Linked DNA regions of Homo sapiens. Each later gene encodes a partner of the first gene's protein in a complex. Each region holds a gene or a part of one and is shown on either strand. Other genes may lie near its edges. A codon is read from its position in the direction of its gene.

What was found.
Region 2: the proteins of UBE2D2 (region 1) and RNF125 are in contact, whole or in part, in a crystal structure (PDB 8GBQ), measured with the Homo sapiens proteins. Residues at the interface, in NP_003330.1 of Homo sapiens: Leu3, Lys4, Arg5, His7, Lys8, Glu9, Asn11, Pro61 (codon at 1,459), Phe62 (codon at 1,462), Lys63 (codon at 1,465), Ile88 (codon at 1,626), Gln92 (codon at 1,638), Ser94 (codon at 1,644), Pro95 (codon at 1,647), Ala96 (codon at 1,650), Leu97 (codon at 1,653), Thr98 (codon at 1,656); in NP_060301.2 of Homo sapiens: Ala38, Val39, Cys40, Leu41, Glu42, Cys60 (codon at 2,212), Thr63 (codon at 2,203), Ser64 (codon at 2,200), Asn67 (codon at 2,191), Pro73 (codon at 2,173), Tyr74 (codon at 2,170), Arg76 (codon at 2,164), Glu102 (codon at 2,086), Tyr122, Lys125, Tyr126.
Region 3: the proteins of UBE2D2 (region 1) and RNF25 are in contact, whole or in part, in a crystal structure (PDB 5D1K), measured with the Homo sapiens proteins. Residues at the interface, in NP_003330.1 of Homo sapiens: Leu3, Lys4, Arg5, His7, Lys8, Glu9, Leu10, Asn11, Asp12, Arg15, Ser22, Pro25, Gln34 (codon at 1,299), Thr36 (codon at 1,305), Val49 (codon at 1,423), Phe51 (codon at 1,429), Asp59 (codon at 1,453), Pro61 (codon at 1,459), Phe62 (codon at 1,462), Lys63 (codon at 1,465), Phe69 (codon at 1,569), Thr70 (codon at 1,572), Thr71 (codon at 1,575), Arg72 (codon at 1,578), Ser80 (codon at 1,602), Asn81 (codon at 1,605), Gly82 (codon at 1,608), Gln92 (codon at 1,638), Ser94 (codon at 1,644), Pro95 (codon at 1,647); in NP_071898.2 of Homo sapiens: Val136 (codon at 165), Ile137 (codon at 168), Cys138 (codon at 171), Leu139 (codon at 174), Tyr140 (codon at 177), Cys161 (codon at 339), Arg164 (codon at 348), Tyr165 (codon at 351), His168 (codon at 360), Pro199 (codon at 1,121), Val200 (codon at 1,124), Arg202 (codon at 1,130), Gln220 (codon at 1,184), Met222 (codon at 1,190), Glu223 (codon at 1,474), Leu224 (codon at 1,477), Tyr225 (codon at 1,480), Gln226 (codon at 1,483), Arg238 (codon at 1,519), Leu241 (codon at 1,528), Tyr242 (codon at 1,531), Arg244 (codon at 1,537), Gln245 (codon at 1,540), Arg248 (codon at 1,549), Gly249 (codon at 1,552), Gly250 (codon at 1,555), Ile251 (codon at 1,558), Ile252 (codon at 1,561), Leu254 (codon at 1,567).

Annotation. Positions count from the first base shown.
Region 1 is NC_000005.10:139,613,299-139,616,947, forward strand, and holds part of UBE2D2 (ubiquitin-conjugating enzyme E2 D2), read left to right. Parts: intron 1-1,287; coding exon 1,288-1,319; intron 1,320-1,398; coding exon 1,399-1,476; intron 1,477-1,562; coding exon 1,563-1,668; intron 1,669-3,649.
Region 2 is NC_000018.10:32,035,692-32,039,340, reverse strand, and holds part of RNF125 (E3 ubiquitin-protein ligase RNF125), read right to left. Parts: intron 2,226-3,649; coding exon 2,072-2,225; intron 1-2,071. UniProt on the Homo sapiens protein: E3 ubiquitin-protein ligase that mediates ubiquitination and subsequent proteasomal degradation of target proteins, such as RIGI, MAVS/IPS1, IFIH1/MDA5, JAK1 and p53/TP53.
Region 3 is NC_000002.12:218,663,392-218,666,346, reverse strand, and holds the end of RNF25 (E3 ubiquitin-protein ligase RNF25), read left to right. Parts: intron 1-116; coding exon 117-188; intron 189-287; coding exon 288-431; intron 432-1,099; coding exon 1,100-1,192; intron 1,193-1,473; coding exon 1,474-1,608; intron 1,609-1,811; coding exon 1,812-2,390; 3' UTR 2,391-2,455; downstream 2,456-2,955. UniProt on the Homo sapiens protein: E3 ubiquitin-protein ligase that plays a key role in the RNF14-RNF25 translation quality control pathway, a pathway that takes place when a ribosome has stalled during translation, and which promotes ubiquitination and degradation of translation factors on stalled ribosomes.

The DNA.
Region 1 (3,649 bases):
TGACAAGAGTTACCTGGTTTGGGTTGTTCAAATATAACCCCAGTGACAACTTCCCTTAGGTTGCTCAGATCATAGTATGAATGGTAAGTGTGCTAAGTAGTAGCTTAATTATAAGTAAAAACTCTGGCTTTTGATCTCTCATGATGCACTTAGTAGCATGAGAACATGGAACAAGCATCATTTTCTGCATTTGGAAGATATTTATTTATTGAACAAGTTTATAACTTATTAGAAGTATCCCTGGAGCTTGTAATCAACCTTGGGCTTTCAGCTAATATTTTCTTCTTAAATTTTACTCCTTTTTTCTCTTTTTTCCTCTTTAACTTATCCTTTACATTAGGAGAGATGTTTTTCTTTCTTTAATGAGGGCCAGTAATGTACAGACCTACACAAGAGTTTTTAGAAATTTTTTCTCCTTGTTAAAACCAGTCTTTCTTAATTTGAGTATTATCTACCTTGACTTTACTGTTTTGTCCCCCGTATACCAGCATTATAAAAGGAGTCATGCCTGTAATTCCAGCTTTGGGAGGCTGAGGTGGGTGGATCATCTGAGGTCAGGAGTTTGAGACCTGGCCAAACGTGGCAAAACCTTGTCTCTACTAAAAATACAAAAATTAGCCAGGTGTGGTGGCACTTGCCTGTAGTCCCAGCTACTTGGGAGGCTGAGGCAGGAGAATTGCTTGAACCCGGGAGGCGGGGGTTGCAATGAGCCGAAATTGCGCCAGCGCACTCCAGCCTGGGCGATAGAGTGAGACTCTGTCTCAAAAAAAAAAAAAAAAAAAAGTGTATTATATGTAATTGTTTTGAAGAAATGATTTACCCTGTGAGGTAAAGAAATAACTGTTTAAAAGTAGAACTGTAAGCCTTGTCAAGAAGTTTGTCTACCTGACATGAAGTTTCAAGAAGTTTTAGCCCAAATACTTTCGGTTTTTTTTGTTTTTGTTTTTGAGAGAGTCTTGCAGTGGCGCAGTCATGGCTCATTGCAGCCTCCACTTCTCAGGCTCAAGCAGTCCTCTCACCTCAGCTTCTGGAAGTGTTGGGATTACAGGTGTGAGCCACCACACCTGGCTCTAAATATTTTTCATTGAGCACCTTATCAGTGTTCTAGGCCATTCTAGTCATTTTTCTTGTTTCTTTAGACTGTTAATTTATGTTCCTCATCTTGCTCATACTCATTATCATATTATTTATAAATGAATTTGGATTAGAAGGGGAATGATATGTTACTATGGCGTAGATACAATGTAGATATTGTTACATGGTGACTTTTTTCTTGTTATTTTTCAGTGTTCCATTGGCAAGCTACAATAATGGGGCCAGTAAGTATTCAGATTAATTTCAGAATAAACAGTTTATGTAATTTACTCATTTTAATCCCACTTTTCTTGTTATCAACAGAATGACAGTCCCTATCAGGGTGGAGTATTTTTCTTGACAATTCATTTCCCAACAGATTACCCCTTCAAACCACCTAAGGTAATTAATTGGAATGTGGCAGTTTTTAATGTACTTTCTATAATACTAATAAACTAGTTTACAGAAAGTTTCCTTTCTTTCTGTAGGTTGCATTTACAACAAGAATTTATCATCCAAATATTAACAGTAATGGCAGCATTTGTCTTGATATTCTACGATCACAGTGGTCTCCAGCACTAACTATTTCAAAAGGTAACAGTGGGTATTTGATATCAAGATAAAGCAACCGTGTCTTTTGTCTTTTTAGAGTTATTTATTTTTGAAAAGATTACTTATGTTTCTTTTAAGAAGAGATAGCAATTCTTCTTAATCTGAAATGGACCTTGAGAACTGAAAACGAGTTGGATTTTTCAAGCAAAAGTATTCCTTGGTGTAGTGACTAGTCTGTCAGTTGTGCTACTCTAGCATAGGTTAGAAGATGAACACTGGGCCTGGTGCCGTGGCTCATGCCTGTAATCTCAGCACTTTGGGAGGCCGAGGCGGGCAGATCACAAGGTCAGCAGATCGAGACCATCCTGGCTAACATGGTGAAACCCCGTCTCTACTAAAAATACAAAAAAATTAGCTGGGCATGGTGGCAGGTGCCTGTAGTCCCAGCTACTCGGGAGGCTGAGGCAGGAGAATGGTGTGAACCCGGGAGGCAGAGGTTTCAGTGAGCAGAGATTGTGCCACTGCACTCCAGCCTGGGCAACAGAGCGAGACTCTGTCTCAAAAAAAAAAAAGAAGATGGACACTGGTATGAATGTTTTTTTAGAGCATAAAGTAGAGCACAATTAACATCTCTTCCAACCTTGAGATTCATGAATGGAAAAAGATAGATACTATTGCAGAATAGGAAATAGACCAGCCCTTTAGACAAATGCCTATGCTGTAAACATAGACGTTAGGTTCTTGAAGAACAAAATATAGGTAAATATTTTACCAGCTCTTGTCTTTAGGTTTCTGTATCAATGAACTGAGTGATGTAGTTGTTGTCTTAATGTGTTGATTTGAAATTGTACAACCCTTCAACATTATTCCCAGATGAAATCACAGTTGCGTTACAATAATCTAGATTTTTTTTTTTTTTTTTTTTTTTTGAGATGGAGTCTCACTCTGTCGCCCAGGCTAGACTGCAGTGGTGCAATCTTGGCTCATTGAAACCTCCACCTCCCGGGTTCAAGCAATTCTCCTGCCTCAGCCTCCCTTGTAGCTGGGATTACAGGCACCCGCCACCACGCCTAGCTAATTTTTGTATTTTTAGTAGAGACTGGGTTTCGCCATGTTGGCCAGGCTGGTCTCGAACGCCTGACCTTATGATCCACCTGCCTCGGCCTCCCAAAGCGCTGGGATTACAGGCATGAGCCACCGTGCCCAGCCAAATAATCTAGAATTTATAAAGGAAAACAAAAACAAGTATTTATGGCCTGGCACGGTGGCTCACGCCTGTAATCCCAGCACTTTGGGAGGCCGAGGCAGGAGAATCGCTTGAACCCAGGAGGCGGAGGTTGCAGTGAGCTGAGATTGCGCCACTGCACTCCAGCCTGGCCAGCCTGGGGGACAGAGCGAGACTCCGTCTCAAAAACAAGAATATTTATCAGATCTCACTGCTGTACTCTGAAAGGTGATAAAAGAGTTCACTGGATGTACTTTTGTGAAAATGAAATCAGTTGTTTAAGAGAAAAATCAAATATGGTAATGGATTAATATGTTTAAAATATGAAGTACAAAAATCAGAAAAAAATTCAGATCCCAATAGATGAATGGACACAGGGGAACCAAAGAATAAATAAATGAATGTTACGTTCCTATTTTTTACCTTTTTAATTAACAAAGATATTTTTAAAAGAAGACAAAACACTAATGAGGTACATTGAAATGAACACTCATATTCTTCAAGTAGAGGTATAGATTTGTAGAGCCCAGTCTGCCAGTATGTGTTAAGAGACTTAATCATCCATGCCCATTCACCCAATAATTCTAGTTTCATTTATTTATACTAAGAAAACAATCCCAAATGCTGAAAAAACTTTGTATACAAGTACATTTGTGACATTGTGATTTAGTTCTGAAAATTGGAGGTTACTTACAGTAGAGGAAAAAATAGATCGGTTCCAGCACATGCATTTAAAAGAGTATTGACCCTGGCCAGGCATAGTGGTTCATGCCTGTAATCCCAGAACTTTATGAGGCT
Region 2 (3,649 bases), on another chromosome or scaffold:
TACTGCAGCCTTGATCTCCTGGGCTCAAGCGCTCTTCCTACTCAGCCTCTGGAGTATCTAGGACTACAGGCGTATACCACTATGCCCCAGCTAATTTTTTTGATTTTTAGTAGAGACAAGGTCTCTTCCCAGGTTGGTCTTGAACTCCTGAGCTCAAGCAATCCTCCCGCCTCGGGCTCCCAAAGTGCTGGGATTACAGGCATGAGCCACTGCGCCTGGCCTCCAAACCATTTTCTATGTGTATGTTAGAGTGATATCTTAAAGATACAATCCTGGGCTGGGCATGGTGGCTCATGCCTGTAATCCCAGCACTTTGGGAGTCCGAGGCGGGCAGATCGCCTGAGGTCAGGAGTTCAAGACCAGACTGGCCAACATGGTGAAACTGTGTCTCTACTGAAAATACAAAAGTTAGACAGGCGTGGTGTTGGGCCCCTGTAATCCCAGCTACTCGGGAGGCTGAGGCATGAAAATCGCTTAAACCCAGAAGGTGGAGGCTGCAGTGAGCTGAGATCGCACCACTGCACACCAGCCTGGGCAACAGAGTGCGACTCTGTCTCAAATAAAAATAAAAATAAAGATATAAGCCCGATCTTGGCACTCCAAAACTTACTCTCTTTCTCTGGCTTACTATTGCATTTAAGATAAAATCTAGAATCTTCTACATAACCTTCAAGACCTCACATGATCTGGGGAAGCTGATATAGTACCCAAGTTGAAAACTGCAACAGGCAAGGTGTGCTTGATAGAGACAAATACTGCAAAGTCCAGATCAATACAGGTGGAAATATGTCACTGGGTTTGATAATAAAGCTATTCATTAGTGGTCTGCAACAGAGTAGCAGAACTGGAGGACATATCATAGAGGATCACTGGAGTAATGGGAAGAAGGGAAAATGGAGGTGGTCAATGAAAGCATTTGTTTGACAAATTACGGGTGATGGTAGAAGTTCAGGGTTTTCTGCAGATGATATATGTACATATATGAAATTGGAGGCTGGGTGAGATGGCTCACGCCTGTAATCCCAGCACTTTGGAGGCCAAGGTGGGCAGATCACTTGAAGCCAGGAGTTTGAGAACAGCCTGGCCAACATAGCAAAACCCTCTCTCTACTAAAAAGACAAAAAATTAGCCAGACATTGTGGCACATGCCTGTAGTCCCAGCTACTCGGGAAGCTGAGGCATTAGAATCACTTGAACCTGAGAGGCGGAGCTTGCAGTGGGCCGAGATGGCGCCACTACACTGCAGCCTGGGCGACAGAGCAAGACTCTGTCTCAAAAAAAAAAAAAAAAAAAAAAATGGCACGGACCCAAAGAGTGAGTGGTAGCAAGGTTTCTTGTGAAGAGCAAAAGGACAAAGCTCCCACAACATGGAAGGGGACCCAAGCCGGTTGTCACTGCTAGCTGGGGTGGCCAGCTTTTATTCCCTTATCGTCCCCGCCCATGTTCCGTTTCTGTCCTATCAGAGTGCAGTTTTTCCAATCCTCCCTGCGATTGGCTACTTTCAGAATCCTGCTGATTGGTGCGTTTTACAGAGTGCTGATTGGTGCACTTTACAGAGCACTGATTGATGCGTTTTACAGAGCACTGATTGGTGCATTTTACAGAGCGCTAATTGGTGTGTTTTACAATCCTCTTGTAAGACAGGAAGGTTTCCCAAGTCCCCACTCTACCCGGGAAGTCCAGCTGGCCTCACATCTCACCAGCACTTTGGGAGGCCGAGGCAGGCGGGTAATGAGGTCAGGAGATTGAGACCATCCTGGCTAACATAGTGAAACCGTGTCTCTACTAAAAATACAAAAAATTAGCCAGGCGTGATGGCAGGTGCCTGTAGACCCAGCTACTCGAGAAGCTGCGGGCAGGAGAATCACTTGAACCTGGGAGGCGGAGGTTGCAGTAAGCCGAGATCGCACCACTGCACTCCAACCTGGGTGAAAGAGCGAGAACCTGTCTCAAAAAAAAAAAAAAAAAAAAAAAAAGGTGCGTACCATGGGGTCAGAAGCAGAGGTGAAATGATAACTTTCGCAGGGACTTAAGCTGGTAACCATGAAAATAGGTGGGGTCACATACATACCAGGGTGTCACACTCAGCGCAGTTCTTATACTCTGATTTCATTCTTTTGGCTACATCAGTTGCTGGAACTCCTTCTGAAGGAAGATATGCCCGGCAATAAGGACAGGTCCACTTGTTGTTCTTTAGACTGGTAGCAATACAGGAACGGCAGAATCTACCCCAAACAGACCAAAAATACATCACTTTCCTTGAAAGCTATAAGGAGCCACCACCATGTATTCATTTGTGTAAACTGTAATTTAATGACACCTCGTACCCCATGAGCCATACTACCAAATTACAGGTCCACTTGCACCCTGCACTTCCCGAGAATTGCTTACCTTCCCAGCAAGACTTCTTTAGAATCACACATTCTTACCACATGCACTTTCACACATTTCAAGAAAAGTAAGAATTCAAAGTGGGTGAAATAGCTTTCCTATAGGCTAAGTTTAAACGATACTTTAAAGAATGTCTAAATTGGATTTTACCTCAAATTTCTTGAGAAAATATGTCTTTCTTCTGTGGGGTTTTGTGTGTCACATAAGAAAATAGCAGGAAGTCAAGGAAGTAAAAATACCAGACACATTATAATTCCCTATAAAACCATTTTCTCCTTCCCTCCCTTCCTCCCTCCCCTCCCCTCTCCCCTCCCTCCCTCCCCTCTCCCCTCCCTCCTTCCCTCCCTCCCTTCTTCCTTCCTTCCTTTCCTTCCTTCCTTCCTTCCTTCCTTTCTGGTCAAGAAATATGTTCTCTGGTTTATTTAAAGGTGCTCATTATGAAATCTTAACATAATCAACATTTCCAGAAAATTCTGACCTATTTATAGGAGTTGTTGAAGACTCCATAAACATAGAAATAAAAATGAGCATTTGGGTAATTTATACACATGAGCATGACCTGATGCCTCTTAAACTACTCAGCACATAATATCTATTTGGGAGTATTAATACATGTCCAAAGGTAGGCTTTTTAAATTTTAAGTATACTGTACATACTGGAAAGTTCTTATAAGCATATAGTTGAATGAAATTTCAAAACTGAACACATCCATATAACCAGTACCTATAACAAAAACAGCGTGGCCAGCCCCTAAAATTTCCCCTCTTGTTTCCTTCTCTTTTTTTTTTTTTTTTGAGATGGAGTCTTGCTCTTGTCACCCAGGCTGGAGTGCAATGACACGATCTCAGCTCACTGCAGCCTCCACCTCCTGGGTTCAAGCAATTCTCCTGACTCAGCCTCCCAAGTAGCTGGGATTACTGGCACCCACCACCACGCCTGGCCAATTTTTTGTGTTTTTAGTAGAGACAGGGTTTCACCATGTTGGTCAGGCTGGTCTCGAACTCCTGACCTCAGGTGATCCACCTGCCTCAGCCTCCCAAAGTGCTGGGATTACAGGCGTGAGCCACTGTGCCCGGCCTCCAGACACAATTCTATCCCCTCCAAAGTAATCACTGACTTTTTAAAATGTATTTTAACATATGAAAATTATACTTTTCAAACATTGTACCAGCCTATAGACTGCAGCTTTCTCATCCCTGCTTACCATCCTTGGTGGTGCTAATCATTGACTTCTAATAACAAAGATCAGTTTTGCCT
Region 3 (2,955 bases), on another chromosome or scaffold:
GTAACAAACTGGCCTGCTAGGAGCCAAGTCTAGCCAGTCACTCCTAGGAGTAGTAGACAGGCCTTGCTCACCGTTCTTCCCCCTACCCCCGTTTAATCAGTGTCTTCTCTCCTCAGAAAGGGAAGGAAATTCTCACAGATAACAACATCCCTCATGGCCAGTGTGTCATCTGCCTCTATGGTTTCCAGGTGGGTTTCTCTCTTGGGACCTGGCATTCTGTTTGGGACCAGCAGATGAGGGCTGTGAGAGAGCTCTGACTTAGTGCCCTACATCTGCCTTCCCTCTAGGAGAAGGAGGCCTTTACCAAAACACCCTGTTACCACTACTTCCACTGCCACTGCCTTGCTCGGTACATCCAGCACATGGAGCAAGAGCTGAAGGCACAAGGACAGGAGCAGGAACAGGAACGGCAGCATGCTACAACCAAACAGGTAGACCTCACTGCACCTGCACACTCATCTGACACCCTTAGGCACAGCCTTTCACAAACTTTTCCATCTCTCCACTCCAGTGGCTCTTCACTTTTTCAGGGTCATAGATACCCTTGAGATTAATGAACTCTTACCTCTGTCCAGAATAAAGGGCATCCTTTTTTTTTTTTTTTGAGATGGAGTCTCACTCTGCCACCCAGGCTGGAGTGCAGTAGCACAATCTTGGCTCACTGCAACCTCCGCCTCCTGGGTTCAAGCAATCCTTCTGCCTCAGCCTCCCGAGTAGCTGGGATTATAGGTGCGAGCCACCACGCCCAGCTGATTTTTGTATTTTCAGTAGAGACGGGGTTTCACCATGTTGGCCAGGCTGGTCTCAAACTCATGACCTCAAGTGATCCCGCCCGCCTCGGCCTCCCAAAGTGCTGGGATTACAGGCGCGAGCCACCGTGCCTGGCCAGGGCATCCTTATATACACTTACATATTGCATGCAGTTTCGGGGGGTTCCCAGATCTCTAGTTAGACAACCCGTGCTCTGTCCCAACTCACTGCTGAACCGGTGTCCCTGTGCCCTTTAGTCCCAGCCCTCTGCAGATTAGGTTGGCTGATGGGTCAGCACCAGGGGGCATCCTGGGCTGTGACACAGGCATATGATTTTTCTCTTTTTTAGAAGGCAGTCGGTGTGCAGTGTCCAGTGTGCAGAGAGCCCCTCGTGTATGATCTTGCCTCACTGAAAGCAGCCCCTGAACCCCAACAGCCCATGGTAAGGAGACTTTTTTCCAATCTGAGCCAGGAGTAATGGTATTTTCTAAAGAGTAAGGAATGGCATCTTGTCTGTGTCAAATGGGATCTCTGAAATTGGGCTTGAACTGCCTAGGACCTCTCTGCAAAGCCACATCCCCCACTGGCGGGAGCCTAAGACTCTGGGAGCCCAGACCTGAGGGGCAAAACCAGTGCAGATCTCCTGAGGCAGCCTGGGAGGAGTAGAGGTTTGAGTCAGCCTTCTGCTGTTCATTATTTCCTCTCTGCCATTCTTCCTTCCAGGAGCTGTACCAGCCCAGTGCAGAGAGCTTGCGCCAGCAAGAAGAACGCAAGCGGCTCTACCAGAGGCAGCAGGAGCGGGGGGGAATCATTGACCTTGAGGCTGAGCGAAACCGATACTTCATCAGCCTTCAGCAGGTGAGGGAAGGGCTTCCCAGTTGTCCTGTAATGCCACCAACCTTTCTACAAACCCCAATCAGCCATGGCCCCAGAGTGAGCTTTGTTCTAACCAGGAAGATGATAGGCTGATCGTGGTCAGCCCAGATAGTAGGAGAGGGGCCTGTAGTTCCCCACCTTGAGGAACTGCATCTCCCTCACTGCATCTTGTCACTTATTTCTAGCCTCCTGCCCCTGCGGAACCTGAGTCAGCTGTAGATGTCTCCAAAGGATCCCAACCACCCAGCACCCTTGCAGCAGAACTATCCACCTCACCAGCCGTCCAATCCACTTTGCCACCTCCTCTGCCTGTGGCGACCCAGCACATATGTGAGAAGATTCCAGGGACCAGGTCAAATCAGCAAAGGTTGGGCGAAACCCAGAAAGCTATGCTAGATCCCCCCAAGCCCAGTCGAGGTCCCTGGCGACAGCCCGAACGGAGGCACCCAAAGGGAGGGGAGTGCCACGCCCCTAAAGGTACCCGTGACACCCAGGAACTGCCACCTCCTGAGGGGCCCCTCAAGGAGCCCATGGACCTAAAGCCAGAACCCCATAGCCAAGGAGTTGAAGGTCCTCCACAAGAGAAGGGGCCTGGCAGCTGGCAGGGGCCCCCACCCCGCAGGACTCGGGACTGTGTTCGCTGGGAGCGCTCTAAAGGCCGGACACCCGGTTCTTCCTACCCTCGCCTGCCTCGGGGCCAGGGAGCATACCGGCCTGGTACTCGGAGGGAGTCCCTGGGCCTGGAATCTAAGGATGGTTCCTAGCAGGACTTGGTGGGGGGAACAGGGAATTGGGGATGGGAGGGAGGCAATAAAGATATTTGGCCTTCTTTGGCTTTCTTTGCTTAGCAGCGCCTAGCCTGTGAGGAATGGCTCTTTTTCTCAATTCCTAATAAGATTGGGGTGTGGCAGAGCAGCCCCCAACTTTGCTCTGAAGTCTGTTCTCCGAAGAGCTGGGTAAAGAGGGTCTGACATCTCATCAGCTAGTATAGTGAGTTTCAGGGAAAACTAGTGGGATGTCAGCATGTAAGCAGAGTCCTTAGGACCCACCGTTAACAACTCATTGTGTACACACCCATGCCTGTCCATTATTTATATACATAGAATGCCTTTAGGTAGAGGAATTTAGTTTCCTGTTTTGTGTCTCATCTCTTTATCTTAGGCTATGCCCCATCATTTGTATATGTGGTTGCCTGACTGACCCCTGTAGGCACCTGTGATTGCAGCCCGTCTTACTCAAGTACCAATCCAGTGATGAAGGGAGATGAGAGAGCAGAGTAGTGTGGCAGATGTTTATTGAGCTAGAGGAGGAGAGCTGAGCTGAGCCCAG